Linked DNA regions of Homo sapiens. The protein of the gene in region 2 interacts with the protein of the main gene of each other region in a pairwise test. Each region holds a gene or a part of one and is shown on either strand. Other genes may lie near its edges. The genes, in order: RAP2A, FKBP2, S100A9 and ATXN1.

Evidence for each region.
Region 1: the proteins of FKBP2 (region 2) and RAP2A interact in a two-hybrid assay, tested with the Homo sapiens proteins (one study listed by BioGRID and IntAct).
Region 3: the proteins of FKBP2 (region 2) and S100A9 interact in a two-hybrid assay, tested with the Homo sapiens proteins (one study listed by IntAct).
Region 4: the proteins of FKBP2 (region 2) and ATXN1 interact in binary tests that used the Homo sapiens proteins (3 or more experiments, as listed by UniProt).

Annotation. Positions count from the first base shown.
Region 1 is NC_000013.11:97,458,156-97,465,179, reverse strand, and holds part of RAP2A (ras-related protein Rap-2a), read right to left. Parts: intron 976-7,024; coding exon 738-975; 3' UTR 1-737. UniProt on the Homo sapiens protein: Small GTP-binding protein which cycles between a GDP-bound inactive and a GTP-bound active form. In its active form interacts with and regulates several effectors including MAP4K4, MINK1 and TNIK.
Region 2 is NC_000011.10:64,237,289-64,244,118, reverse strand, and holds the start of FKBP2 (peptidyl-prolyl cis-trans isomerase FKBP2 isoform 1 precursor), read right to left. Parts: upstream 3,025-6,830; 5' UTR 2,987-3,024; exon of another isoform or gene 2,840-2,986; coding exon of another isoform or gene 2,042-2,839; exon of another isoform or gene 1,906-2,041; intron 1,763-1,905; exon of another isoform or gene 1,736-1,762; coding exon of another isoform or gene 1,732-1,735; coding exon 1,561-1,731; intron 921-1,560; coding exon 808-920; intron 669-807; coding exon 622-668; intron 279-621; coding exon 243-278; intron 152-242; coding exon 90-151; 3' UTR 1-89. Other genes in the region: uncharacterized protein LOC114841035, read right to left, coding at 2,042-2,839; VEGFB (vascular endothelial growth factor B isoform VEGFB-186 precursor), read right to left, coding at 6,486-6,699. UniProt on the Homo sapiens protein: PPIases accelerate the folding of proteins. It catalyzes the cis-trans isomerization of proline imidic peptide bonds in oligopeptides.
Region 3 is NC_000001.11:153,353,473-153,360,865, reverse strand, and holds the start of S100A9 (protein S100-A9), read right to left. Parts: upstream 3,013-7,393; 5' UTR 2,985-3,012; intron 2,598-2,984; 5' UTR 2,583-2,597; coding exon 2,433-2,582; intron 223-2,432; coding exon 28-222; 3' UTR 1-27. UniProt on the Homo sapiens protein: S100A9 is a calcium- and zinc-binding protein which plays a prominent role in the regulation of inflammatory processes and immune response.
Region 4 is NC_000006.12:16,303,450-16,310,473, forward strand, and holds part of ATXN1 (ataxin-1), read right to left. Parts: intron 3,411-7,024; coding exon 2,880-3,410; 3' UTR 1-2,879. UniProt on the Homo sapiens protein: Chromatin-binding factor that repress Notch signaling in the absence of Notch intracellular domain by acting as a CBF1 corepressor. Binds to the HEY promoter and might assist, along with NCOR2, RBPJ-mediated repression. Binds RNA in vitro.

The DNA.
Region 1 (7,024 bases), on a different chromosome or scaffold from region 2:
ATTCTGATCAAACCCTTGTGAAAGCCTCCATTTTCTGTGGCAAAGCAGGTGAATTAACAAATTCTAAAGCCAGACTATATTTTTACATAACCTGTTCTGAGTTTTGCTCTATCAAGGATTGAAGCATGAGTTAGTTCCATGTCACAAATTAGAATAACAGCTACAATTAAGCATCAATTTTGAAAAACAGAAATGTGTTAGCTGAGCAAAGAATCTCCCTGTAATGCTGTTGGCAGGTCAGCTGTTATTATCTTACTTGACGGAATACATTGGTTAGAAGCTCTATCCCATTTCCTGAAATTCAGTACTCTTGTAGGAAAATATTTCTCCTTTACTTATTTTTTTAAAGAAGACAAAATATTTTAATTGTAAGTGGTCAGAGGAATTCTTCTGGTTTCTCCCTTATGGTTATTTTTAATTTGTACAATAGTTGCTTCTGTCAACTCAGCGACAATGCCATCATAGCTTTCAAATGAGATCACCCTGTAGATCGATGGACTATGCCTTAAAGTTGCAGATGCATAAAGGAGACTGAGGACAAATGGTGAAAACTGTAGTTACTGAACCCAAATGTTACTCAGAGATATCAACTGACAATCACTGCTCAATTCTGAATAAGGGCTGCAGTTCTCTGTAGATTAACACCACGCATTCTGCAAGTTCTGCAGTGGAGTAGGCGAGTTTTCTATCACCTACGACATTGGGCAAATCCCATCCAGGACAGCCATATTTGGATGCTATTGTATGTTACATGCAGAACAGCATGGGTCATCTTTGTCAGGCTGAGCAGCATAGTTCATCTGCCTCACAATTTCTGCAAAGAGTTCGTCCACCATTGTTTTACTCTTAGCGGAAGTTTCCATAAAGGGGCAGCCCCACTCTTCAGCAAGGGCTCTGCCTTCGCTGGACGATACTTCTCTCTCACTTTCCAGGTCCACTTTGTTCCCAACCAAGATGACTGGCACTTTCTCATACCTATGAGAGAATAAACAAAACACACATACATTGTAACAGTTAGCACAAAGTTAAACAGGTCACGTGTATTTTCGTTTTTGGGGGCTATTCCAACATAAATGGTATCTTCAGTTGCATGAAAATGATTTGTACCACTTGGCTTGATACTTAGATCTGAGGGCATTTGAAGCTGCTCTCACAGTGGATGATAAAATGAGTTTTATGAAATGATGTTTTAATTAATCAATTATATATCCTTTAAAATCAATTTACCTTTCCAGATATACTTGGAAAATTATTCTCAGAAACTCAGACTAAATCCTCTTTTTTTTCCATTCTGAGAGAGGGTTGCACAAAATTTCACAGTTGATCACACAGTAAATAGCTACAATGAGTAAACAAACAACTTATAATTATCAGCATTTTACTATGTTCTATGTGTATAAAATTGATCATGTTCATACAAAAATCAGCTGGGTGTGGTGGCAGGTGCCTGTAGTTCCAGCTACTCGGGAGGCTGAGACAGGAGAATCGCTTGAACCTGGGAGGCAGAGGTTGCAGTGAGCTGAGATCGTGCCACCGCACTCCAGCTTGAAAAAATGATCATGTTCGTTCTAATAGTTCTCAAACAAGAAAAAAGGTAGTAGAAATCATCCAAATGGAAGCTATCAAATACAACCACACCCCATCCCTTCAGAAAACTTTTATGGATTAGTCAGTTCAAAGAGAAACAATTAGGATTCTTTTAAGACTGACAAGAATTCAGCCTCAATTAGCTTTAATTGGTGTTATTTCTCTTTTTCTTCCTAACTAAAATAGGTATCTCTGAGTAAACACGTTTGGAAAAAGCTAAACTAATAAAAATAGTAAGTGATAAGAAAGAACAAAGAAAGAAGCTCCTAAGTCATTTTGGTGCCTAAGATGATTGTCTCTACAATGGTTACTCCATGTAGCACATTTCACAACAGATGTCAACACTGGTGCTGGACTGCACATTTATTTACTATTCTTCTTTATGTTTGTTCTAAGAAAGATAGCTAATATATTTTCACAAGACATTTTAAAAGGTTTTTGTGATTTTAGTATAAATCTGTGTGTGTGTGTGTTTGTGTGTGTGTGTCTTCCCATAAGCAGAATGTATTTCTGATTTAAAGGAGCTAAACAGCAAGATCGCACAAAAGTGATAACAAATGTGACTGGAAACAGCTAAATCTGTCAGAAGAGAAAACCACCCCATGGTCAAGCCTTTGAGGCAGGATGCATAGACAATTTTTATCATTCAGGAAACTGGATAATAGGCAGGTGGTTATTGTTCGCTATGATACTTCCACAGATTTCTTCATCCTGTCAAGAGGGTTCTCTCCACTCATCCTAACTTGTAAAGCAAACCAAATTCCCAACATTCTCACTTTTTTTCTTTGACACTATATCAAACTAAGAATGGTCTCAACAAGAGGGCATACTCCAGGTAGTGTGCCATTTGGCAATGTGAAACATGAAAACAACTTAAAAATGAGTGGAAGGAACAACATCAAAGGCAAACCTAGAATTTGGATATTATCATTTTATAGGAAATGAATTTGGACAACTTCAATTTATATCAAAGGACTTTATATAAATTTACTGTACACTACTGTACCTTACGATTTCGGGCCTTAGATCATGCTGACAGCTCTGAACATAAGACACAAGGGTTTTTAACATCTTCTAGGACTCTTACATACAAACAATTTGTGCATCCCATGGCCTCTAGGAGGGCAAGTGGCAGTGAGAATAAAGCTGCATTACAAAACACCATGTATTTGCTACTTTGCATATAAACTCTCTTGATTGGCTATACAGAGAAGCTTGGCAGGGAGCAGACACTGCCAGCCATGTCAGGACAATGTCAGCTTCCAATTTGTGTTACTTGCAAAATGTAATTACATTTCGTTTTTCTTATGAAAGTATATACATCACAGTGTACTTTAAAATGCTTTGCTTGACAGTGGAGTAACTTAAAAACATTAATAAAATTAAGTAAAACATTGGTTGAATTTAAGTTAAAACAAATTTCAGTCTGTCTATGAATAATAAAAAGTGATAAGATCACTTTCTATTAGTTGAGATAAATGATAAATATTTTAAAGAATGTTTAAATACAATATATATAATATATAAATATATATATAAATATATATATAAATATATATAAATATATAAATATCTATATAAATATATAAATATAAATATATAAATATATATATATATATATTTTTTTTTTGAGACGGAGTCTCGCTCTGTCTCCCAGGCTGGAGTGCAGTGGCATGATCTTTGCTCACTGCAAGCTCCGCCTCCCGGGTTCACGCCATTCTCTTGCCTCAGTCTCCTGAGTACCTGGGACTACAGGCGCCCACCACCACGCCCGACTAATTTTTTGTATATTTAGTAGAGACAGGGTTTCATCGTGTTAGCTAGGATGGTCTCGATCTCCTGACCTCGTGATCCGCCCGCCTCAGCCTCCCAAAGTGCTGGGATTACAGGCGTGAGCCACCGCACCCAGCCTGTATCATGTTTTATATGTGAAATATTTCTTACACTTTTAGTTAAGTTCAGGATCTACTAGAATATGTGGATTTTCAAAACTTGCAAATAAATCAAATTATTAAGTTGTATTGATACATTATTAAAATCAAGAATTTGAATAAATCTTACCATCAACCTAATTCTCAAAACAGTAAATAAAATATTGCAAACACAGTTCCACATATAACAGCATTTAATAACTGGTAAATGTAGATGAAAATGCAGTCAGTATCAGAGGACCTGTTTATTATATCACTAACTTGTCAGTGGCCTTTTCTAAAATCAAGTTTCTAAAGACACTAGAGAAATCCACATTAATATCCTCAGAAGATTTTTAAACTGAGTACGATGTTGAGAAAAATTATGTACATTTCAGAATACCAGACGGTGATAAATTTTGTCTCTCTGTTAAAATTTGGGACAGTAGAAAAGATTCTACACCCAGATTTGGAGGCTCTGCTTCCAGTTCTGCCAATGAGATCATTTCCTTTACATATCTGTATTTCATTTCTTTGATAGTAAAAAGGGAGTAAGAGTATCTGTTCCCACTTAACACAGGGTTGCTGTAAAGGGCAAATGAGATAATGCTGAAAAAAATGAAGTACTAGATAAAAGGAGGGTGCTTGCTTCTTTCCCCTCCTAACTCTAGTGATGTGGCCTTGAGAAGCCACAAAGGGTGAAGAAGGAGCCGGAGAAACTGATCAAAGGAGGTAAAGAACTCCTGAGGGCAAACCGAGTTGAGGGTGAAGCTGGAGGAAGAGACAGGCAAAAAAGATGGGAGTCAAAAACAACAAAGCAGCCACCAGACACTAACCAGGTGCTTCTCCAGAGTCCCTGTGCTGAACATCCATGGTGATGGGGGCCTAGGAAAGCAGAAAAGCAAGCATTCCCAAACAGCGGGCACTCGAGAGAATATACTGGCCCCTGTGGGAAAGGCATTCTAAGAAGGCTCTGGATTGGGGTGACAGAATAGGGTCCCATATGAAGGTAACATTTGGAGAAATCTGGATCCTCCTTAAGAAAGATGGGTGAGACGCTGAAGGGAAAGAAGCCAAGACCTGTGTTGACAGTAGATGACTGCACTGCATGAGGAAGCTGGTGTTGCTATCTGTTTTAGCAATATGGTGGGTTTAAAAAAAAAAGAAACCAAACAGACTAGGACTCCTGTCCCAGAAGGGGCTGCCTCTAGCTAGTACTGTGAATTTAGAAGATTAACCTAATCTTGGTTTCCTGAGTTTCTTGAAGTATAAAATGAGCTGGACTGGATAATTCCTAAGATACTCTGAAGTTAAAAATCACAACAGACATGGTGGGTCACACCCACAGTCAACACATATCATTGACTAGGTTAATTGCTGAGTGCTTAGCACTGTTCTAAGAATAACGTCCAACAGGCTGATCTTTAAGAGATATGAAAGTGTGCATCAGGAGTAAAGCCAAAAATGTTGGGGGAAATCTTATGAGATCTCATGGGGCCAAAACATAAGCAGGAGGTTTCACTTCTACAAGCGGAGCCACTACTGCCAGCATGCTCTGACTCAACAGCAGAACTCCAAAATGCACTCATGACCTAGGCAGTTCCATTTCACAGACAACGTTGTTCAAACACAAATATTTGGGATGGTTTTAACTACGTGAATACTGAAGGCTATACTGAAAACTGCCTGATGTGGCATAAATAGCTAGTAATGAACAATCGAACAATCAATACATCATGTACTTATCCATCCACTCAACACATATTTATATACTAAGTGCTAGCCACTATTCTAGACACTTACATCAATGGACAAAGCAAATAAAGCTCTGTAATTAGCAGAGGGCGCAGACATCAACAATAAACATAACAAGTCAATTCTGGGTTTACAATAAAAGTGTTAAGTGCAATGGAAAAAAAGATGTGGATCAGGTGGTGGGTGGGGAGCACAGGTGCCACAGTTTTAAATAAGATGATCCCAGGCCTTGTTGGGAAAGTGGCTGTGAACAAAGATGGGAAGGGTTTCTGGGAATCTGCTCCCTACCGTGCAGGTTCTAGGGGAAGAGCATTCTAAGCAGGACATGCCCTAGACAATGCCTGAGCCGGCGACAGCATGCCTGTCAGTGCAGGGACCAGCTGTGGGATCCATCTCTACAGCCTCCTGCAGGACTCTGGCAGTGGAGGAAATGCTCATTTGAAGCTAGACCTCAGGAATTCGGGTGCCAAAAGTGGCCTCAGAAAACAAATCTGGCACTTATGACAGACTGACTTAGAGGGCTGACTCTGTTATTTAGGAAGATGAGGTGCTTTGTTAGTGGGTGATGACAGTTACTTTCATGTTCTATTTTCATTATCAGTTTTGCAGGTTGCCTTCATTTTCCCCCTTTTCATCATTTCCCCCTTTTCATCATTTCTTCCTTACCCCCTTTTCATCATTTGGACATAAAGCTAAAGATGCAAAATTCTCAAACTGTTCAATGTATGTGTTATTGTTAACCTGATCATGAGTAAGATACCACCTTGCTTACATCTTAAACATCAGCAGATATCTCACCAACTTCAGCCCATCTTCCTTGAAATTTCCTTTAAGGGCATGACCAGCTCAGACGGTGACTGATGCAGGTCTAATAATTTTATTTCTGTGTGTAGTCTGTGGACAAACACTTTTTTATTGACAAGAATTTCCATAGTGTTGACTGTATTCATGAACCTGATTATAAATGTATAAATAAATAAAACTAGTTCTTTTAAGCAGCTCTGCTTAATGGACTGAATGAAACATCAGAAATACTGGCTGTAGCATCACTTAGCTGTAGAATGTTAATGGGCTTCTCACCGAGACAGCTTTTTAAAATATCAGTAACTCAAAAGAACTTGATGTGTTTATCAAAATACTTTATTTTGCTTTCTCCTTTCTTGTAACTGTCCTGATATGTAGGTATGTATACGTATATATATTTTATTCTGGTCGTGTCTGAACTTGGCTGATCATCAACACAACTTGAGAATTCTTTTAAAGATAGTGATTTCTGGGCCCTATTCCAGAGCTAGTTAATCTAAATCTGTGGGATCAGGACCCAAGAGTCTATTAAAATATGTAATATGTCTATATCTATAAGCTCTGAAGATGGATTCTGAAGTTCAGCAGGGTTTAGGAATCACTGGCCTAATCTACTACTTTGTGACCCCAAACAACATTCTATGTGTATAGTTCATGGTTCCATATGCGGCAAGTCCAGACTCAATTCCTTCTTCCCTTCATTTATTCACCAATGATAAACTGTAGACAGATACCACTACTGTCAGTTTCTGTACTTTACTTTTGAGGGTGCTGCATCGTAGCGTATTTAAAGAAGGTCATACTTCATGTGAATTTTAACATGCTGGTATCTTCTTAGTGATAAGCAGGTTGAAATATAATTCTCTTTGAATTTGGAAATGAGAATCAGAAAGGCTTTTCTAAGTCCCCTCATTCATCTTTTCACACAGTTAAAATCATCTACCAAGAGAGTCCCAAGGCAAAACGTC
Region 2 (6,830 bases):
GTTTTTTTGTTTGTTTTTGTTTTTTGTTTTTTTTTTGGAACAGTCTGGTCCCTGATGGGGGCCTCTCCCCCTGCCCCTCCCCAGTCTGGTTACAGCTCAGTTCGTCGCTCTATTTTGAGCAGCTCCACCTCGAACACCAGGGTTGCACCACCTGTAGGGGAGAAGGGGAGTCAAAATGCCAACCAGGGCCACAGGGAGGTGGGCTGGCTGCAGGTGATGGGAGGTATCAAAAGGTTTACTACCTGGAATCTTTGGGGGAGCTCCCCGCTCTCCATACCCTGTTGAAGATGCACAAAGAAACAGTCAGTGATGGCCAAGCTCCCTTCCAGTGTGGGCAAAGGGAGAGTGTTCCGCCCCTCTCAGCAAGAAGGCCAGAAATGGAGAAGGGTAATGGAGATGGGAAGGGGGTGCCAAAGGCCTGGCAAGGGCAGAGTGGGGCCACTACAGCTGAGTGCTTCAATGATCTTGCCCTGTACTCACTGCTAGACACAGCCAAACTTGGAGGAGGCATGTATTGTAATGAATGGATACGGTGAAGACCAATGAAAAGCTGAAGCAGCTTTCACCCTTCCCAGTCACACACCCCAAACTCGCTCTGCACCCTCAGGAGGGGCCTCTTACCTAGCTCGGATGGGATCACCAGCTTGCGCTTTTCCCCCTCACACATCCTGCAGGAAGACACATGCTCAGCCCATGGCAGCACCCAGGGCCCTTGTCTTGTATCCCTGGGGCTTGCCTCCCACAGCTTACCTCCTGGGCGGTGGCCATGCACGCCCCCACTCCCAAGCCCATTCCCCCATGACTCACCCCAGCAGCCCCTGGTCCCAGCCCTTGATGACCTGGCCTGTGCCAAGGGAGAAGACAAAGGGCTGGTTCTGGGGCAGGCTGCTGTCAAACTCTGTCCCATCTTCCAGCTTCCCCTGTGGAACCATGAGAAGGCCAGTGAGGAAGAGGGGACCACCCCTGACACCCCCTCCCTCAGCTGCTTTCCCCATCAAGCTGCCCCCCCACGCCCACCCACAGCCCTGGTGGTCAGTCCTTTTTGTTTTTTGAGATGGAGTCTCTGTTGCCATGGCTGGAGTGCAGCGGCGTGATCTCGCCTCCCTGCAGCCTCTGCCTCCCGGGTTCAAGCAATTCTTCCACCTCAGCCTCCCAAGTAGCTGGGATTATAGGCGCCCGCCACCACGCCTGGCTAATTTTGTATTTTTAGCAGAGAAAGTTTCATCATGAGGCCAAACTGGTCTCAAATTCCTGACCTCAGGTGATCCACCCGCCTCGGCCTCCCAAAGTGCTGGGATTACAGGGGTGAGCCACTGCGCCCAGCTGGTCATAGTTCTTTAAGAGGACAGAGCCTTGGGCAGCTCACAGTACACTGTCACTGCCTGCTGGTGCCCACCTGGGCAGTAGGCAAGGGCAAGGCAGAACCATGGAAACTGGCTTAGAGGCGAGAGGGGACTTGCCCAAGGTCACCTACCTGGCTTATGGAGAACCAGACTCCCAAGCACTCTCTGGTCCTCGGAAGCCCCACCCACTCCCAAAAGGCCCGCCCAACCCACTCACCGTGTAGTGCATGTGCAGGACATCCCCTTTGCGCGATTTGATGGGACAGTGGTCCACCCGCTTCTTGACCCCGATCTGCAGCTTCCTTTTGCCCTCGGCCCCCGTGGCCGTGGCCACGGCGCTCAGGCAGATGGACAGTACTGTCAGGACCCGGAACCAGCTCAGCCTCATGTCTCTGTGGGCACAGACCCCGACCGACCGACTGAACGTGGGGGAGGGCAGGGAGAGTATGGAACACGGGTAGGTAACAGGAGGGTTCCACCGCCACTGTATCTTCCTTGCCCCGGGGGATCCCCTTTGTCCCGGGTCACCGCCCTCTCCCCCGGGCTCCGGGGCCACACTTACCAGTCCAGTGAGAAGGGGGCTTGGCCGAGGACCCCAGCAGCGGGGGGAGGGGGTCAGGGGAGGCCACAGCAGCCAGGGACCCGCCCCTTTGCTCACCCCCATACCTTCCCTCCCTCCCAGTCCCCACCTCCGCTCTTCAGTTCCCGCCTGTCCCTTTACGCAAAGTCCAGACCCTATCTGGCTGCACTGCAGTTGCCCCGACTGGGCGGCCCCACTCACGCCACACCCAGCTGCCCCCGGTCCAGCACACCAACACCTCTGCGGCCGCTGCAGGGGGCCGGCCCCGAGGCACCCACACATCCCCACTGGGTGGCTCCGAGGAGCCCGGGTCCTCGGGAGATACCCCCCAGCCTGGCCCTGTGCTTCCGCCCGGGGCGCCGCCCCAACTCTGAGCCCTTGGGGGTCTCCGGGGCACCCAGACTGGCCCTGTGTCTGCTGGCCGCCGAGCCCGCTCCACCCACACCACCTCTCCCGGTGGAGTTCTCGGCCTACGGCGTCCCCAAGCCCGGCCACCACGGAGACCACCCCCGCGAGGACGCCCGGGGCCATTACTCGGGCCAGGCTCCTCACTTGGCTCCTTGGCACCGCCCTTCGGAGGACGCGGTACCGCCCCCGGGCCTGCAGCCCCGCCTTCGACAGAACTAGACCCCTTTTCCGGAGCCGTAGCCACGCCACTCACCGGCTGAAGCCCCGCCCCCAGCGCCTCCGCTCCGTCCCCCTCTGCTTCCGACCCCGAGGCTCCGCCTTTCACCTCCTCCAGCTCCTCCTTCAAGAGCCAGGCTCCGTCCCCCGACCCTCCTAGCTCCGCCCCCCGCCGCCGGGCTCCGCCTTCCACTGGCACCAGCTCGGAGGTCCCACCCGTCCCGGTTCCACGTCCCGCCCCGAGTCCCAGGACTCCGCCCCGTGCGGCGTGAGAACCCTCCCCCTGCGGCATCTCCGGACAGCTCCGGCCCCCACCCCCAATTTCCTCGTCACCTAGCTCTCGTTGACACTCGGAGCCCGGTCCGCTTCTGCCCGGCCTGATCCAGCCTGCCCTCTTGCACCCCGGCTCCCCCCAGCCCGGGCTGTGGCCCCCGCTCACCTCCTCGCCGCGCCCCCGGAGTCAACCCCGGTGGTGCTGCCGCCTCTGCGCAGGCGCGTCCTCGTCGCTACCAGGCCGGGCCACGCCGCCCTCCCTTATTGGACCGTGCGAAACCCGCGGCCACACGCCCGCTGGCACGGGTCTTTCCCGAGCCCCGCCCCCGCGACGCCGCTGCCCTGCGTCACTTCCGGCGGAGCGGTAGTCTGTAAGGTTAGGTGAAAGTGACTTCCGAAAAGGCCGGAGACACTTCCGGCCGAGGTGATAGTAAGGTCAGGCGGGCGTGGGTTCCCGGAGGGGGTCTTGAGGCGCCATTTCAAGTCGCCCCCAGCCTCTCCCACAGCACTCCTGTTTTCCCGGGCCTCATCATGGCCCACGGCCCTCAGTCGCTGTGGAGCCTGGGCTTCACAGTGACACTCACGTTTGAACTCCCGGTCGGCTGTGTGCTTGGTAGAATTTGTCATCCAATACAGGCGTGTAACACGGGCTTGATGACACCCACCCCACAGGGCCCCTGCAGGACCGAGATGATGTCCAATGACAAGCCCTGGCTTCCAGCCAATGCTCCTGCCCACATCTCTCTCCCAGGAGCCAGGCTTACCTCTACCTGTGCACCTGGGCTGTGACTCATGACTGGAATGATCTGGCTGGGCCTGTTCCCCCACCAGACTTATTTTCAGGCGCCCCAGCAGCCACCAAACATCTGTCAACTGAAGTAATGAACCTGCAGTTGAGAGGCAGCTAAACCTAGGTTGAAGGTTAGGGAGACAGCTGAGTTGAGGTCAAATCCCCCCGGCCAGTTAGCCTTTCTGAGCCTATTTCCTCAATTGTAAAAGGAAGACAATCATGATGCTGACCTCAGAATCGAGCGAGGAGAAAGTGAGGAGGTGCATGTGAAGCATTGTGCGTGACTGGTGGGGCTAACTGGGCTCTGGAGGCGGTAGCTCTGGGGCCCTAACCCCTTTCTGCCTCATGCTAATTGACCTATGGCATGTCCAGTGACATCATGACTGAGAAAATGATTTGAAAGTAGTAATCGCTGTCAGGAATTGTCTCCTGGTTCAACCCACTCCTGCCTTAGGCCCACTAAGATCATACCCACATGCTCTGACCCAACACCTCAGAGAAAGCCTCCATTAGGGTGGCTGCCCCTCCCAGTGGCTGCCCAATTGAGTTAACTCTGCCCCTGAATGTCCTGCTTCAGCAGGCAAAGCAGTGGTGCCCAAGGTTGGCCTTTCATCCACCCCAAACCACTCAGCCCTGGGCACTGGAGGCTGCAGGGAGAAGGGTAGGGGCTGGGCTTGGGCTAGGATAGACAAGTCAGGAGAATCTCAGGCAGCAACTGATGATGAAGGAAGCTGCAGGATGCAAGGGAGGCGAGGGTGGAGAAAACTGTGTGGGTTGGGCGGGCGCGGTGGCTCACGCCTCTAATCTCAGCACTTTGGGAGGCTGAGGCAGGTGGTTCACCCAAGGTCAGGAGTTCGAGACCAGCCTGGCCAACATGGTGAAACCCGTCTCTACTAAAAATGCAAAAATTAGCTGGGCATGGTGGTGGGCACCTGTAATCCTAGCTACTTGGGAGACTGAGGCAGGAGAATCGCTTGAACCCAGGAGATGGAGGTTGCAGTGAGTGGAGATTGTGCCATTGCACTCCAGCCTGGGTGACAGAGTGAGACTCTGTCCAAAAACAAAAAAAAAAACAAAAAACTGTGGGTTGGGTTGAGGGGAGCCTGCCGCCCAAACCAGGCCCACCAGCCCCAGACTTGCGGTGCTTCCCTTTCAGGGAGGTGGGAGTGAAGTTAAGACAGGGCAGGTGCTGAGGCTTTAGATTCAAGCTGCAGGGAACAAAAAGCAGCAGATGCTGAAAGCGCTGCCTGGCAGGAAGAACAAGTGTTCTTTTCTATTACGTAAAGATAGTCTCAAACTTCTCTGGGGCCCGAGGACGCCAACCACAGCAATCTTCTGTTCCCTCTATGTGCACATGTGGAAACTGCTGCTCAGAGAGGCAGGGGTAGTGACAAGCAAGGTCACTCAGTAGATCTGGGTCCTACCCCAAGCTCTCTGGCCACAGAAGGCTGTCTCCTTCTAGAAAAGAACCCTGGTGAAGAGCAGGAGGGCAGGCAGTCTGTATTGACTGGGCTATCCCTGACTCCCATGCGTGGCAATAACTTGAAAGTGATGAATACATAATTCTGGCCCTGCCTGGGATCTGCTGTGGGGCCTTAGTCCTCATTTCCTCCATCTGCACAATGAGGGAGCAAGACAAGCTCTGGATTTAGTGATGCAGACATTCATGCCCAAACCAGCCAGCCTGGACAGTGACAAACAGTGACACAGGCAGGGACAGCTCCTTCCATCTCTTTTATCAGGGTTGGGGGTCACAGTTCTTGTACCAAAGCCCAAATCCCATTATGCAGAGGTTTGGGTCTTCTTAGTGAGGGGAGGAAGAGCCAGTTGTAAGATGCTTACTTGCACAGAGTGGTTAGAAACTGAGACAGTACTCCATTCTCCCCTGAGCTGGTATGTGACCCCTCTTGCTGCCTCCCAGTCTCCTCTTCCAACTCTGTCCTGTTTGATGATGGCCTCAGGGAGACAAGGGATGGCAGAAGAGCCCTCTGAGAGGCCCAGGTCCTAGAGCAGCTTCTGCCTGGGCTGAGGTCTTGGGGGCTTGGCTGTTTTTTACCAGGCTCCTCTTTGTTCCCCCACTGGGATATAGCCTCTGAGGCAAGTCACCCTGCTGAGTCTGAAAAGCCATGTGTCACCTTCGCAGCTTCCGGCACCTGAGGAGGGAGGAAGTGATCTGTTCATGCTGGCTGGAGCGCAGCCCCAGCCCTGGACTCATGTGTGCCTCGGGCCCACTAAGATCACAACCTGAGCATCCTGCCACACCACTCGGCCCTGGGCACTGGAGGCTGCAGGGCGAAGGATGAACCTTTTGCAAAGGTCATCCCCTCCTGACACTCCTCGGGAGCCCCCACTGGCCCTGCCCATATGATTTCACCCCATGGCCTCACTGCGGGACACGGATGGTGAGAAACACATCAGGTAAGGGTGGACAAGGGTTCCACTATGTCCCCTGGCCTCTTGAAGCCCGTAGGTAAGGGCAGATGTCTACCACAGGGGCTTCTGGGAAGGCCCGAACTGCAAGCTGGAAAAGCTGTGTCCTACATTTCTACTCCGGGCAGATGTCACCTCCTCCAAGAGATCTCTGACCTCTGAAAGACGAGGCCAGGTACCCCTCACCACAGCCCTTGACATCCTCTGCTGGCATTGTCCCTCCTGTATCTGACTCCTGAGTTAGAATGTTGGACTTGCTTATACAGCTCCAGGTGCCAGCAGCTGTTTGGTAAATATTTGTTCAACACATTCAACAGTTTCCCCTTCCCTGGCCCTCCTCCTACTGGCAGGCTCACCCTGGACCTGCTCCAGGACAGGGCCTTGGTGCCTTCCCAAACAAACACCACCCCACAGACGCCTCACCTGCAGGTGTCTGGGTTGAGCTCTAAGCCCCGCCCTTGGCAACGGAGGAAGCTGCGGCGTCGGCAGCGGCAGCGGCAGGTCCGGGGGTCAGGGCGCTGGTGGTGCTGGGTGCAGCGTGGGCAGAGGGGCCTGGGGCTGGAGTGGGATGGGTGATGTCAGCTGGGGAGGGTGCTCCGGGGGCAGAGTCCCAGCCCGGAACAGAACGGGGCTGGGGACGGTGGTGGGGAGTGGCAGCCCTAGGGAGGAGAAGCGACATGTCTGGGGTGGGAAGGAAGAGTCTTCCCTAGAGCTGGGGTCGGGGCAGAGAACACAGGCTTGGGGAGCAGAGGAAAAGGGAAAGTGGGGGACGGGTGGGAGGAGAAAGAGG
Region 3 (7,393 bases), on a different chromosome or scaffold from region 2:
GCCACTGTGATCTTGGCCACTGTGGTCTTAGGGGGTGCCCTCCCCGAGGCCTGGCTTATGGTGGTGGCCAGGGCCCTCGTCACCCTCGTGCATCTTCTCGTGGGAGGCCCAGGTTAGCCTCGCCATCAGCATGATGAACTCCTCGAAGCTCAGCTGCTTGTCTGCATTTGTGTCCAGGTCCTCCATGATGTGTTCTATGACCTTTTCATTCTTATTCTCCTTCTGCGGGTGGGGAGAGAAGGCTGTGAGAGCTGGGTGTGGCCAGAGGTGGGGACTGGGAGCACAGTAAATGACCAGCTGGCAAATGTACAAGGGAAGCCTCACCCTGGGGCTGGATTTAAAAATTAAAAATGACCATAGGCTGAGTGCGCACAATGGAGCAGACACTGAGCACATACCAAACGCTCTCCAGTTTATTCCCTCCATGACCCTGTGACTTGGGTGCTGATTCTCTATTTATAGAAGAGGAAGCTGAGTTCCAGGGTCTTGCCCTGGTCATGGCATGAGTAAGCCTGGAAATGTCACCTCATTTGGTCCTTATAACAACTTTAACAGCTAGGAATGGTATCTTCCTGGAGGAAGACTTGAAACCAGTCCTAGAGAGGGTCATTAGTTTTCACAGCTTGACTATTGAGGGCATGCAAATTCAGATCTGACTTAGAGGCCAGTTCCACTCTGCTACCCCTCTGCACTTCACTCCTTCCCCTGCCCTCCCTTCCCTTCCCTCTGGAGGTTACCAATTAGTGAAACTTATTTCAACCAATACAACGGGGAAACACCTAGAAAAACTAGGTGTGGGCAGGGGAGATGGAGGGTCAGAGAGCAGAGTATGTGCTCCGCTGACCTCAAGGGTGTGATAAAGTATAAAAGGGGAGATGGTCGGACAGGGTGGCTCATGCTTGTAATCCCAGCACTTTGGGAGGCCGAGGCAGGCAGATCACCTAAGGTCAAGAGTTCGAGACCAGCCTGACCAACATGGAGAAACCTTGTCTCTACAAAAAATAACAAAATTAGCCAGGCATGGTGGTGCATGCCTGTAATCCCAGCTATTCTGGAGGCTGAAGCAGGAGAATCGCTTGAACCCAGGAGGTGGAGGTTGTGGTGAGCCGAGATTGTGCCGTTGCACTCCAGCCTGGGCAATAAGAGCGAAACTCTGTCTCAAAAAAAAAAAAAAAAAAAAAAAAAGGAGAGACATCAGGGGAGGTGGAAGACCCAGACCCAGGCGGGGTCCAAGAGAGCACTGGTTGGTTCCAGCTCTGCCACCCTCTGGCTGAGTCACCTCGCTAAGTCCCCTCCCAGAACCTGTGGGGTACCCAGCCAATGCGAGCACTCTCCTGTGCAGCCCATCCATGAGGCTCTGCTTCCTTTCCCACAGCATCGCTTTGCTTCTGGTGGGGGATGTCAGGTGGGGGGTGAAGCGGGCATAGGGGGTCACATGGAGGATAGTTTTGCCATGCGGCCTCTCTGCTGGGCCCTTTCTTGCCTACCCCACCCAGCATCCTGCCTGCCTGAGGCCTCCACCTATGGAGAGCTGTCAGGGCCCCTAACTCTGAAGGCTGCAATTCTCCACCTTACCAAGGCGGAGGGAGGGGCACTGGGAGGGCTGGGGACCTACCCCAGGATGTCTGGCTCCGGGACTGGAACTGAGACTGAGACCCATGTGTTCCACCCTTCTTAATGCAGGCCTCTGTTTCCCGACTTTCCCCAAATTTGAAAAGAAAACAAAAAGGCTGTTGGAAGTGCTCAGCCTTTTTCTTAGAACTGCCTAATCATTTTTGGAGCGGGGGAAAAACCTCCCAGTTCCCTGAGTGCTGTGCAGGTGCTCTCCATGTGCTCTTTATGCATTCATTTTCCACCGCAGACCCTTAGGATTAGAAAAGCCCCCAAGTCTTCCACCCCAAGTTCCCGCCTGAGGCTTAGGGTCTCCTCAGCTTTGTGCCAAGTGTCATCCTCAGGGGCTTCCCTCCCCAACATTCGGGGCTCAGCTCAAATGTTACCTCCTCAAAGAGGCCCTTCTCATGTACCCTAACTGGTCACCTCCACCCCACCCAGCCCCATTGCCCACAGCGCACTCTATCTCATTTTCTTCCAGGCACTTATTGGCATTTGGCTTTATCTGTGCTCTTTATTGGCCAACAACTTTACTGTGTGTCTCCCTCCACTGGAATAGTGGGCTCCCCATTTACCACTACATCCCTCTGCCCAGAACAGGGCCCGACAAATAGCAGGTGTTCAATTGAGCAATTTCTTGACCCTGTCGTCCTGTGTAACTGTGAGCACCTGCCCTGTATAACAGGACACTCGCTGCGTCTTGGGGCTGGGCTCCAGGAGCTCAAATCTTCCCCTTGATTGCTGTAGCCCATACTCCCATCCTCCCTTGTCAACCCAAACTGCGGTGAGGCTGGGTCAGACCTGCCAGAGTCCAGCCCTACCTTGAGAAAATTTTGCAGATCTTTTCGCACCAGCTCTTTGAATTCCCCCTGGTTCAGGGTGTCTGGGTGCCCCAGCTTCACAGAGTATTGGTGGAAGGTGTTGATGATGGTCTCTATGTTGCGTTCCAGCTGCGACATTTTGCAAGTCATCGTCTTGCACTCTGTCTGTGTAATGGAAAACCAAGAGTTGGGACACTTAGAAGAAAATGCTGTCAAGCTTCTTTGACACTTCCTACTAAGCACTCACAGAAATAGTGGGGGAAGTGCAAAATAAAAAGAAAGCACAGGCTGCAACTTAACTGGGAGATGGCCTGTCACACACATGTACAAAATGATTTTTTAGAATATCTACAGAGTGCCAAAAAGCAAAGCATTTGAGGGCAGGAGGCCCCAGGGGAACATGACCTAAGAAAATGTGAAAGAAGCTTTAAAGTAGGCAGGGCCAACCAAGGAGGGCTTCTAGGAGGAGGATTTGGAAGGAAGTTGGGTCAGGGAAGGAAAGAAGGAATCGGCAGGCAGGCTTCTGCCTGGGGAAGCTGGCAGCTCACTTACCAAAGCCGAGGAGCCACACAGAGTGTTTGCCAGAGCTGTGCAGGCTCGGCATTTATAGGCAGCTCCTGACTGGGGCACTTGGCCCTTTGGCCCTGTCTCCGGAAGATTGCTTCACAGGTGAGCAGTGTGGTAATGCTGCCAGGAAGGGGGCTGGGGCGGGGCAGGAAATGTTCACAGAGCGCCTTCTGCTTTTTTGTGAAATTCCCAGCCCTGGCCTGAAACTGGTTTGGGAGGAAGCTGGTTGTTTAGTTCATTTCCCTTCTATCCTAAGGCCCTACTCTCCCCGAGCGAGCCTGCTGCTCCTCTGGCACCACTCAGCCCCCCATCCCCTTTGAGGTTGAAGCAGGCTGAGGACCTATGGGGGCCTGACCCTCTCGGCTGCCCCCCATGGGCAGTCTGCCCCTTCCTTTTAGTCCAACAAGGATGGTCTGAGCTCTCACCCATGCTTGCCTGGCTCTGTGATACTTAGGATGGCGAGGGGTTGGTGTTCTTAGATTCATAGGGTGAGATTTGGGGTTAGAAGGGTTCTCAGAGGTGGGCAACCCTCTTGCATTGTAGATGAAGAAACTGACACCCGGAGATGGACCTGAGCAAGGTCACATAGCTGGTTGCTGACTTGGCAGGAAGGGGACCCAGCTATTCTGGTTCCTGGTTAAGGGCAATTCTGATGATACCTTCCTCTTGCAGTCTGAGTGAGAGAGCCTCAGGGCGAATATGTTTCTAGCATCTCTCAGCATCATTTTTCTAAATCCTGCTCCCAGCAAGGGTTCCAGGAACTTATAACTTGGGAGACAACTGTTTTTACTTAGCCTCCTGGTGGGCAAGATGTGTCCTTCTCCTGCTACGAACCTCCAGTTGCTCCCCATTGCCTATGGAGAAAGCTTGGCTTAGCCCTGCGCACAAAGCCCTCTTGGAATGGCCCTGCCTGTCCGGCCAGCTTCCCTTTCACTACCTCCCTGCCCACTGTGGGAACACAGGGCCCACCTCCCACCTTGCCACCCCAGGAGTGCCCTTCCCCTACTCCACAGTGATATCCTGCCCGCCCCCACGGCTCAGTTCTAATGCACTCTCTTCCAAGGAGACTGCTCTGTGCTTCCCATTTGGAAACAGTTTCTGTCTTCCTGACTATGATTCTCATACCACTTCTGGCTCTCAACACTTGCTTTCCTGGAGTAAAATTATATACATATTTTGCCTCTGTCCAACAATTGGCTGTAGATCCTCAAAGGTAGGTTCTCATTCATGTTCTCCTTCTCCTATGCACACAGCCCGGGGCTTGGCAAGAGAGACACCCTCGGATTTGCTGATTGATCCTTGCTGAAGTCCTTGCTGGCATCCTTTCCCGTCACCCCTGGAAGCCAGTATGGATGATCCACCCTGGGACTCCCTCTTGCTTGCTGCCCCCTCTCTCTATCAGGAAAGATGGTTCTCTTCTTCTACCTGCACTGGTTATTTTGTTCTGTCTCCATGAAGCCTTCCTTTATTGCCCCAGCCCCTCCTGACTGCTTTGTCCTCTGAAAGCCTGAGGCAATCTCTGTGTGTGCTAAGCATTGGCCCTAAGCATGGCCTGCCTCACACTGCTGAGATGCACCTGGAGTAGTGGTTAAGACTTCAGACTGTCTGTGTGACCTTAGGCAGTTTACTTAACTTCTCTGTGCCTTACTTTTCTTATCAATAAAATAGGATAATATCAGGACTTACCTTGAGGATTGCGACAATACATGGAAAGTTGGGAAGAGCTCAGTAAATAAAAGGTATTATTACTAATAATCTTTTCATTCATTTATGCAACAAATATTTGTTGAGCACCTACTGAGTGCCAGATATGAATGCTAGATGCTGGGAGAACTTGATGAGTGAGTCGCAATACAAAGGGGAGACATAATCTTATATCCTGTCTTCCAAATTACGTTTTAAACTCTTGGTAGCTAAGGACAGGGCTTGGCACAGTGCTAAGCACACAGCAAGCATCTAATAAATAAATGAGTGCTTGAATACATGAGTCGCCTACGAATGAATGAACGGTGCAGACACAGCTCAGGAATACATGAGGTAGATTTCCTATCCAAGTCCACCTTCCATTGTTTAAGCTAATAGAGGAAACCCAGCCAGCAGCCAGCAGCCAGCAGCCAGCAGCCAACCCTGTGTGCCAGTGCAGCCTGTTCTGCAGTCCCTGCACAGCCCCAGGCGCCCTTCCTGTGTGCTCCCATGGCGCCCTCTGCTGCCTCTGACAAAGCACTTCTCACTCAGGACCAAGGATCTCCAACTCACCCTTGCGGGAACCAGACCCAAGGTGAAGCTGGTGGGGCATGAGAACATCAACGGCAGCAGTAGGGCAACTTGTGGCCACTGATATGGGGCCTCAGGGTTGGGGACACTGGACAGTGGTGGCAACTGTGGGGAATGAGAACGTTCCTACCTTGAAGGGACAGCCAGTGTCAGGCCAGGGCTGCCACGTGGGAAAGTAGACCAGATGTTCTTGGACCTCCTGAGGGCCCAGGACATCTGAAGCTTTATATGAAAATTCCTGTTTAATACAATTTGTCCATTAATTTAAAATAAAAACAAAAAAAGCATGACAATGAAGCAGGGTGTGTGTGACTCAAACCCTGAGTGATGGTGTGCGGCAGGCATCTCTGCTTTGTCATGGAGCTCTCAACTTTCAGGTGGACTTTCTGATTCCTCCACACCACTGTGGCTCCTCTAGGCAGGGATGCTGCCTGCTACCCTCCAAAGTCTTAGCACCAGGCAAGGGCTGGCTCAGAGGCACTGGATGAACGCTTGTTGATTGAATAAATTCAGGAGTGCATGAATCAATGATGAAATGAGTGAATGTGACATAAACACTGGCCTGTCACCCTCTGTTCTGTGACTTTCTGCAGAGCCACTGACTGTGGTCATTTAGTGCTGATTCAGAATGAAAGTAAAATAGGGAGTTGGGGGAGAGAAGGCTCAGCAGTGGGTGGGAATGAGCAGCTGGTCAGGGTTTCAAAACAGACGGGAATCTGCACTTGGGGGATCTGATGCTGACAGTGGGCCCCCATCTTAGAAGGCCACTGCAGGCCCCCAGGTTCCAGGCTAGCCCAGGCGCAGGTGAGGCCAGGGCTGAGCCATTCTGGTTCTGACCGGAGCAGACAATTCCTGGCATGATCAGTAGGTGGCCGACACCCACCTGCCTCCTCACTGCCAGCCGAGGCCAGAGGTTGGACTGAGGGATGGTGGGATGGGGGTCTTCCCCTCTGGGTACTGATTTTCCAGGGAAAGTCGGAGCCTTCTGCTAGGGCATGAAGTGGGTGGGCCAATTTTCCTGGCTCTGTACAATGACTCGAGGTTTTCACTGGGAGAAAAGGGTGTGGCTTTTTGGGTTAAAAAACAAATAAGTGGCCGGGCACGGTGGCTCACGCCTGTAATCCCAGCACTTTGGGAGCACGAGGCGGGTGGATCACAAGGTCAGGAGTTCGAGACTAGCATGGCCAACATGGTGAAACCTCCATCTTTACTAAAGATACAAAAAATTAGCCGGGTGTGGTGGTGCGCACCTGTAATCCCAGCTACTCAGGAGGCTGAGGTAGGAGAACCGCTTGAACCTGGGAGGCAGAGGTTGCAGTGAGCCAAGATCGCGCCATTGCACTCTGGCCTGGGTGGCAGGGTGAGACTCCATTTCAAACAAACAAACAACCAAGCAAGTAAACAAACAAGCAGGCAGAGGTTCCTGCAGCTACCATCAAATCACTGTGCTCTTTCCCAGATGCCTGGGACCCACTGCGGGTCTGTCTTTCCCTTCTCTGCAGCTCCCACTGTGGTCTTTCAGGGAGCTTTACCCCTCCTGTGTTGTAATGGGGGTGTTACAGCAGGCACACAGTGGGACCCGGACTGAGGGACTGAGCTGGTTTTAGTCCTTAGCTTTCTCAGACTTGCTGGTGGTCTTTAGAAGTGATTTCCATGTTCGGGCCTCCATTTTCTTATCCATTACATGAGGAGATTGGGACAGCTGACCCTTAGGTCATTTCTAGCACAGATTCCAAGTTTTGATGGACTCTTGGTGGGCTTCATGACTACTACTAGCCTCATGGCCCCTGGACACTGTCTCCTGGCTTACTTGCTCCACCTGCAGGTGAAGTCAGGTCCCTCTCCTCACAGGGACTCTGATGCCTGAGGCCCAGCCCCACTCAGGCTGCGCACAGCCTGCTGCCTATTCCTCCACTCCCTGTCTTCCTCCTTGCTGGGAGTCCCAAGTGCTCTTCCTTGGAGATCTCTGGGTACGGGTCTCCTAACCACAAGCGCCCTAACATCCCCCATTTCCCCAGTGCTCATTCTAGACTCTAGTGCATTAGGATGACTTACAGAAGCTATCCACGGGTAGCTTCAGACCATTGTTCTACCACGTTTGGGCTCAGTCCACATCAAGC
Region 4 (7,024 bases), on a different chromosome or scaffold from region 2:
GGCCAGAATGGGGAAGATCAACCAAACAAGGAAAAAGCCAAAAGGGAATGAGCTTTAACTATATAGCACACTGGTCAGACTCTATTGGCACAGAAAGTATTGCACATGCTAAAAAAGCAAGAGAATGAAATGGGACAAGTGTTTAGAAAGAACCAATTATTTTATAATTCCTATACCTGAAATAGAACCACAAAAATTATGATGATGTTCCTATTGCTCCAAACCATGTGTGTTTTCCCATCTTAGTGTTGGTTTAGTGGATCCAGTCAATTCAATACTCGAAGTAAGCCAAAAGGTGGTGTGTGTTTTTCTGAGTCCACATGAGTTGTAAATAGTGATATTAATGAGAACAAAGTCTATGTGGCAGCCCGTATTCCTCTTACCATCAAAGGCTAAAAAACAAAAAGAAAAACAAAACCTAATAATTGCAAGTGCCCTGAGCAGAATATATGGAAGATTAAGCAAGTTCTCTGAACAGAAACGTTTAAAAAATACAGCACTAAATAAGCAGTATGACTGCAAGAATGAGCCCACCCAGCTCTCTGCAAGCATGCTGAGAGGGTAATGAAATTCGAGGAAAGTCAAGGAACTATTCTAGCTATTCTAAACCTATTCAAATGTTTTTGGTACACCCCAGAAAACGGTTTATAAAAATCATTAGTCCTGGTGAACCCTAAATGTAAATGAATACTAGACAGCCAAAATGTGGGTTGATACCAGATTTTTTTTTTAATTTGTGAAACGAAGAAAGTACTATTTTCAATGGGGTAAAAGAAAAGTCAGGTATTTGTTCAGTTTAGTTGCAGCCATCCAAGTAAGAATATTTAAAAATTTCTCCCTACTTATAAAACTTTTTTTTAAAGCACTTTAAAGATGCATTCAAAACCCACAAATGATATTTCGGATCTCTGGGAATGAAAGGTTTAAAAACTATGAAATACCCTTTCTGGGTTTGTACCAAACATTAAATCTCGATTTGATTTTGAATAGAAAAAAAAAAGCCATTCTGAAAATAACATTAATAACAACAATAATAAAGTAATTGTTTAAAAAAAATCTTGCTCACATATATAAATGTCTTTATGGAAAACTCTCTCAATGAATCTGAAGAAAATTCTCAGAGTTTCTAAGAGCCCGCTAAGACCTGGCTTTTTGTGACAGATGTGGTAAAAAGACCAAAATGAATTTTCAAAGGAACATAACCTTATAAAATGGCCTAGAGTTTAGGCAGGTTAGAAAGAAATTTTGCTACATTTATTTATGCTCGTTCAGTCCCCCAAACCTTTCCCACAATGTTATTGGATAAAAACTGCAGGAATATCACACAAGTTATAAACTCAATATGTGCAAATCGCAAGGTTCTTTAAAAGTTCATCTTAAAAAGAAAAACACTGGACAAAAATGAGTATTCTCTTCTCCATCCCTTTTCTCTCAGTTTCTCTGCCAACTCTGCATATGCCTTGAACTGATTCTCAGACATCAAAGTGAAAAGTGCCTCCCGTCAGGTAGTACTTGGTGGTCATTTATTGTCACATACTAGTTCATAATTCACATTCATCCCTTTAAACCACATTGAAACTTTCAATATCTTGCTCTTCAGCAATTCTGCAGAGCTGAAATGTAGTTACAGTGTTGAAAAAAAGAAAGCAACTTAGTTTTTTTTGTTTTTGTTTTTTCCCCAAAGAGTTTAAAGTGAGATACAGTACTTGTTGAATGAGAGACCAAGATGCTTGGTAATAAAGTGTGAACAGTATTTTTAAATGCTTAAAGATAGTAATATATGCTCATCTTCAAAATCTAATTCCTCATGTCACACTGGAATCTGAAAAAAAAAAAAAGTGGCACCCGAGTTGTCCATAGTCATGAACTATAAACAGTACTAGAGTTCAAAGACAAAAAGATTTCGCAAACTCAACGTGAAGAGCTTCTGTTGCTCTCACTGAAGGGCAGTTTGCATCTACCTCTTGGGAGTGAAGTCAATGCAATAACCTGATTGGTTTTCCTAACACTGCACAGAAACCAGCGTGGGTGTTCGCTCTCTCCCTCTCCCCCACCCCCAACCCCCCTTACCCCATGTGGGGCCATGACAGCAGGGGCTTCCCTGTCCACCACAACACCCTGGTGACATCGCTGCACTAGTAAAAAGCAGAAATGAAATCCCGCATGTGGCAGTTGCTCTTTAAAAAAAATATATATCAGTGCAGTCAGGCCCCATAGGGGGAAATATATATCTATACAATTAAAAGTTGCTTTTATTGTAAAATATGTTGGAGAGAAAAATGTTCTTTTAAATGGTTAACTTTCCAAATCTGCCATCTGACGCGTCTCCGCGATGCCCTGAAGCTGGGTTCCTGATGTTGATTTTGCACGTGGGAACCCCAGGAGGACACTGCTCTGAACCCCCCCGGCCCATGCCGATAGCAAGAGAGTGAGGCAGAGGGAGGCAGAGAAAAAGAGACCCTCACTCGCCGCCACAGCGCCTGTGCACCCCCACATGCGTGCAACCCTGCACCCCTGCAGGACCCTTCCCACGGGACTTTTCTCCTGACACTAGCGGGAGTCAGCGCCCCCGGCTGCTTCTGTGCCGCTAGAGAAGGCAGGCACTGTGAAGCCCCGTTCCTTTCTTCCCCGGGGATGCCTGGAGCCCTGACCGCTCCTGCTGTGCCCTTCCTCCCGCCCGCTCACTGACAGACACTCGTGGAAAAAGCATATGCACCAGTCTCCTGCGACACACCTGCTGTAACTCTAATGACAAGGTTAGAACAGAAACCTAAAATTAAGAAGATAACATGTAAATACTGTGTTATTTTAGCCTACAGTACAGTAATCTGGATACAAATGATAAGGGAGAGCCACGTTTCCTTTCCCCCACGCTGCCTCTACTTGCCTACATTAGACCGGCCTTCAATGCAAATCTTAACCTCCTGAGGAATTAGAGAAGGCTTAGGAAGAGTCAAAGGTGGTTCGTCTTCTGACTTCTCCAGTTTGCGGCTCTCTGGCGCCGACCACCTCCTCTTCCTCGTTGCCGCGGGCTTGCTGGGTTCTATTTTGGTGAGGAAGGGCGCTGCAGGCAATCCCATTTTCTCTGGAAACTTCAGTTCGCCATTCTCAGAGAGCATCTGGGCACTCCCCTGGTTGATTCCGTTTTCCTGCTCGGCATACCTGTGTCTGCTGCCCGCCAGGCCGTCGGCCTTTGAGTGCTTCAGCAGGACGCTGGCGGGATCCACGGGCTGGCCCTTTTTAACAGAGCCGTTCTTCAGGTTCTTGAGGGTAAGCGAGATGCAGACATCCCCAACTGAGAGTTTGGAACACGGCAAATCAAAGAGCTGGCTGGTTCTCTCCGGACAGCAGGATGACCAGCCCTGTCCAAACACAAAAAAAGGATACTCTACCAAAACTTCAACGCTGACCTGTGGAAACAGGGAGAGACAGAGAGAGGAAGAAGGAAGGGAACAAATGAAAACATTTTATTCTTGTTTGATTTTATGCACACACACAGGTATGAACTCACACAGACACACACAGGCTGAATGGGGGAAAATGACTCAGTTTGCAAACCTCCCTCTCCCCCAGCCACACACTATAAATGAGGCTCTTCTCTTTGGGTTGTACCTCTACTTGCCATAGGCAGAAGCCAGTGAAAAGGTCATCAATATTCAAAATATTCCATCAAGTGTTAGCTCTATAGCTGGTCTCTGTTAGAACCAGTCAATCGAACCCCAGTAATGACAGAGCACCCACTTAGCTTTCAGCACCAAGCTAGGCTCTGCAGGTGGCTCACAAGCCCAGCGCGGTCTTAGATTTTATGAGCTCAATGGACAACTGCTATTATCATACAGGACAGGACTAAACATGGATCAGAGTGAGACTGTGAGTTCCAAGAAGCAGGCACAGTGTGTTTATCACTGAGTCCCCAGCCCCTAAAAGGATGCTTGGTGGCTGGGCACAGTGGCTCATGCCTGTAATCCCAGCACTTTGGGACACCAAGGTGGGTGGATCATTTGAGGTCAGGAGTTCAAGACCAGCCTGGCCAACATGGGGAAACCCCGTCTCCACTAAAAATAAAAAAAAAAAATTAGCCATGCGTGGTGGCGGGCACCTGTAATCCCAGCTACTTGGGAGGCTGAAACACTAGAATCACTTGAACCCAGGAGGCAGATGTTGCAGCGAGCCGAGATCGTGCCACTGGGCGATCCAGCCTGGGCCACAGAGTGAGACTCCGTCTCAAAAAAAAAAAAAAAAAGTCAATTTCCAATGTCCTTTCTAGATGTAGTAGACTAGGTAATTTGGACCAACCCTCCTTCTGAGGACAACTAAAAACTCTGAACAAAAATATAAGCAAACAAATAAATTTAAAAACTCTGGACAAAATGTTTAAACTTTTTTTCTTATAGTACTGGACAGCAAATAAGATAGTAAAAAGGCCAGGCGCGGTGGCTCATGCCTGTAATCCCAGCACTTTGGGAGGCCAAGGCGCGTGGATCACCTGAGGTCAGGAGTTTGAGACCAGCCTGGCTACCATGGCAAAACCCCATCTCTACTAAAAATACAAAACTTAGCCAGGTGTGGTGGTGGGCCCCTATAATCCCAGCTACTCAGGAGGCTGAGGCAGGAGAATCGTTTGAGTCCGGGGGACGAAGGTTGCAGTGAGCCAAGATCGTGCCACTTTACTCTGAGACCAGCCTGGCCAGCATGGTGAAACCCTGTCCCTACTAAAAATACAAAAATTAGCCAGGTGTGGTGGCAGGCGCCTATAATCCCAGCTACTCAGGAGGCTGAGGCAAGAGAATCGCTTGAACCCGGGAGGCGGAGGCTGCAGTGAACCGAGATCATGCCACTTCACTCCAGCCTGGGCGACAGAGTGAAACTCCGTCACACACACACACACACACACACACACACACACACACACACACACACTTCCTGGGTTGGATCAGGAAAAGATGATGGCCCAGAGAGGTGAAGCTGGTGTTGGGGGCCTGTTTTCTCCTGAAGGCACTTGAACATTCCAAAGTGGAGCAGTTGGGAAACCAAGTGGGCTTTTGATAGTGTTAAGAGCATAGGGAACAGGTAATGGAGTTCAGGATACACCAAGGGAGGGTGTTCTCTGGTGAGCCCCATTCTTTTGAGTTGTGACCCCAAAGCACTGTCCCTTAGAGGAGACAGTGAACCACAAGCCAACAGGCCTTTCAAGGTCTGAAGCTCAGATTGACTCATCTGAGTCCCTAAAACTGGATTAAGGTCTTGAATTACTTTCACAATTTTGCAAATAAAAGCATTCAATTTAAAAAAGGGGGGTGGTGGTCATGAGGAGACCAGATAGCTTGTATAAGCACTAGCAAAATATCAGATCTTAAAAAAGGATGCACCAGGGCTTCTCATATAGAGTCATACATATAGACTTTACAAAGACTATGCTTACAATAATTAAGAAGATTAAAGACAGCTTGAGAATTTTGATAGGAAACTAGAATCTGTTTTTAAAAGATCCATGAAGCCAGGCATGGTGGCTCATGCCTGTAATCTCAGTACTTTGGGAGGCTGAGACAGGGAGGATCACTTGAGGCCAGGAGTTTCAGACCAGTCTGGGCAACAAAATGAGACCCCGTTTCTACAGAAATTTAAAAAAAAATAGCCTAGTGTGGTGATGCGTGCCTGTAGTCCCAACTACTCAGGAGGCTGAGGCAGGAGGATCTTGAGCCCAGGAGTTAGAGGTTGCAGTGAGCTATGATCACAAGACTGCACTCCAGCCTGGACAACAGAGTGAGACTCTGTCTCTAAAAAAAAAAAAAATAAATAATAATAATAATAATAATTAATTAATTAAAAAAGGTCTATGAGAATTGTAGAATTAAAATATACACCACTGAAATCAAGAATGCAATGAGCTTTCCAGTTGAATAGACATGGATTAAGAAAGAATTCAGGAACTGGATTCTCTAATTAGAGCTTTAGAAGAGACTCCACAGAGTGAACATAGAGACAAAAAGATGGTCAATATGGAGGAGAGGGTAAGAGACACATAGGATACATTGAGAGGGGCTAACAGACACATAATTTGAATCCTAGGAGGAGGAAGAGAGGGAGATAATAGGGCAGAAGTTAATACTTGAGGAGGTAATGGCTAAGAATTTTCCCAAACTGAAGAAGGATAATAAGACAGTTTCAAGAAGGCCTAGCCCCAAACAGGAAAAATAAACAAAAAGAAATCCTCACTGAGGCAGATGAGAATTAAACTGCTATAAATCAAAGACATCTTGTAAACTAAACAGGAAAAAATATCGTTAAAAGCCTCTAGAACAGGCTGGGTGTGGTGGCTCCTGCCTGTAATCCCAGCACTTTGGGAGGCCGAGGTGGGTGGATTACCTGAGGTCAGGAGTTTGAGACCAGTCTGGCCAACATGGTGAAACCCCATCTCTACTAAAAATGCAAAAATTAGCTGGGCATGGTGGCAGGAACCTGTAATCCCAGCTACTCGGGGGGCTGAGGCAGGAGAATCACTTGAACCCGGGAGGCGGAGGTTGCAGTGAGCCAAGATCGTTGCAGTGAGCCAAGATCGTTGCAGTGAGCCAAGATCATTCCATCACACTCTAGACTGGGCGACAATAGAGAAACTCCATTAAAAAAAAAAAGCCTCTAGAACAAAATACATATTATCTCCAAATAAGCAACAATGGAACTCACAGTTTACATCTCAACAAAAATAATGGAAGCCAGTAGACAATGGAGACAATGGAATATCTTTACAGTGCTAAAGAAAAAGAATTGTCAATGGCGAATTCTATATGGAGCAAAAAGATCCTTCCAGAATGAAGGCAAAATAGAGACATGTTCAGACAAACAGTAATTAAAAGAATTCACCATCAACAGATCTGCATTATAGAAAATACTAAAAGGTATTCTTTAGGTAGAGAAAAAACAAATCTAGATTGAAGTTTGTACAGGGAGGAATGAAGAGGAATGAAAATGGTAGATACATGGTGAATCTGAATGAATATTGGCTATATGTAACAATATTTAAAAT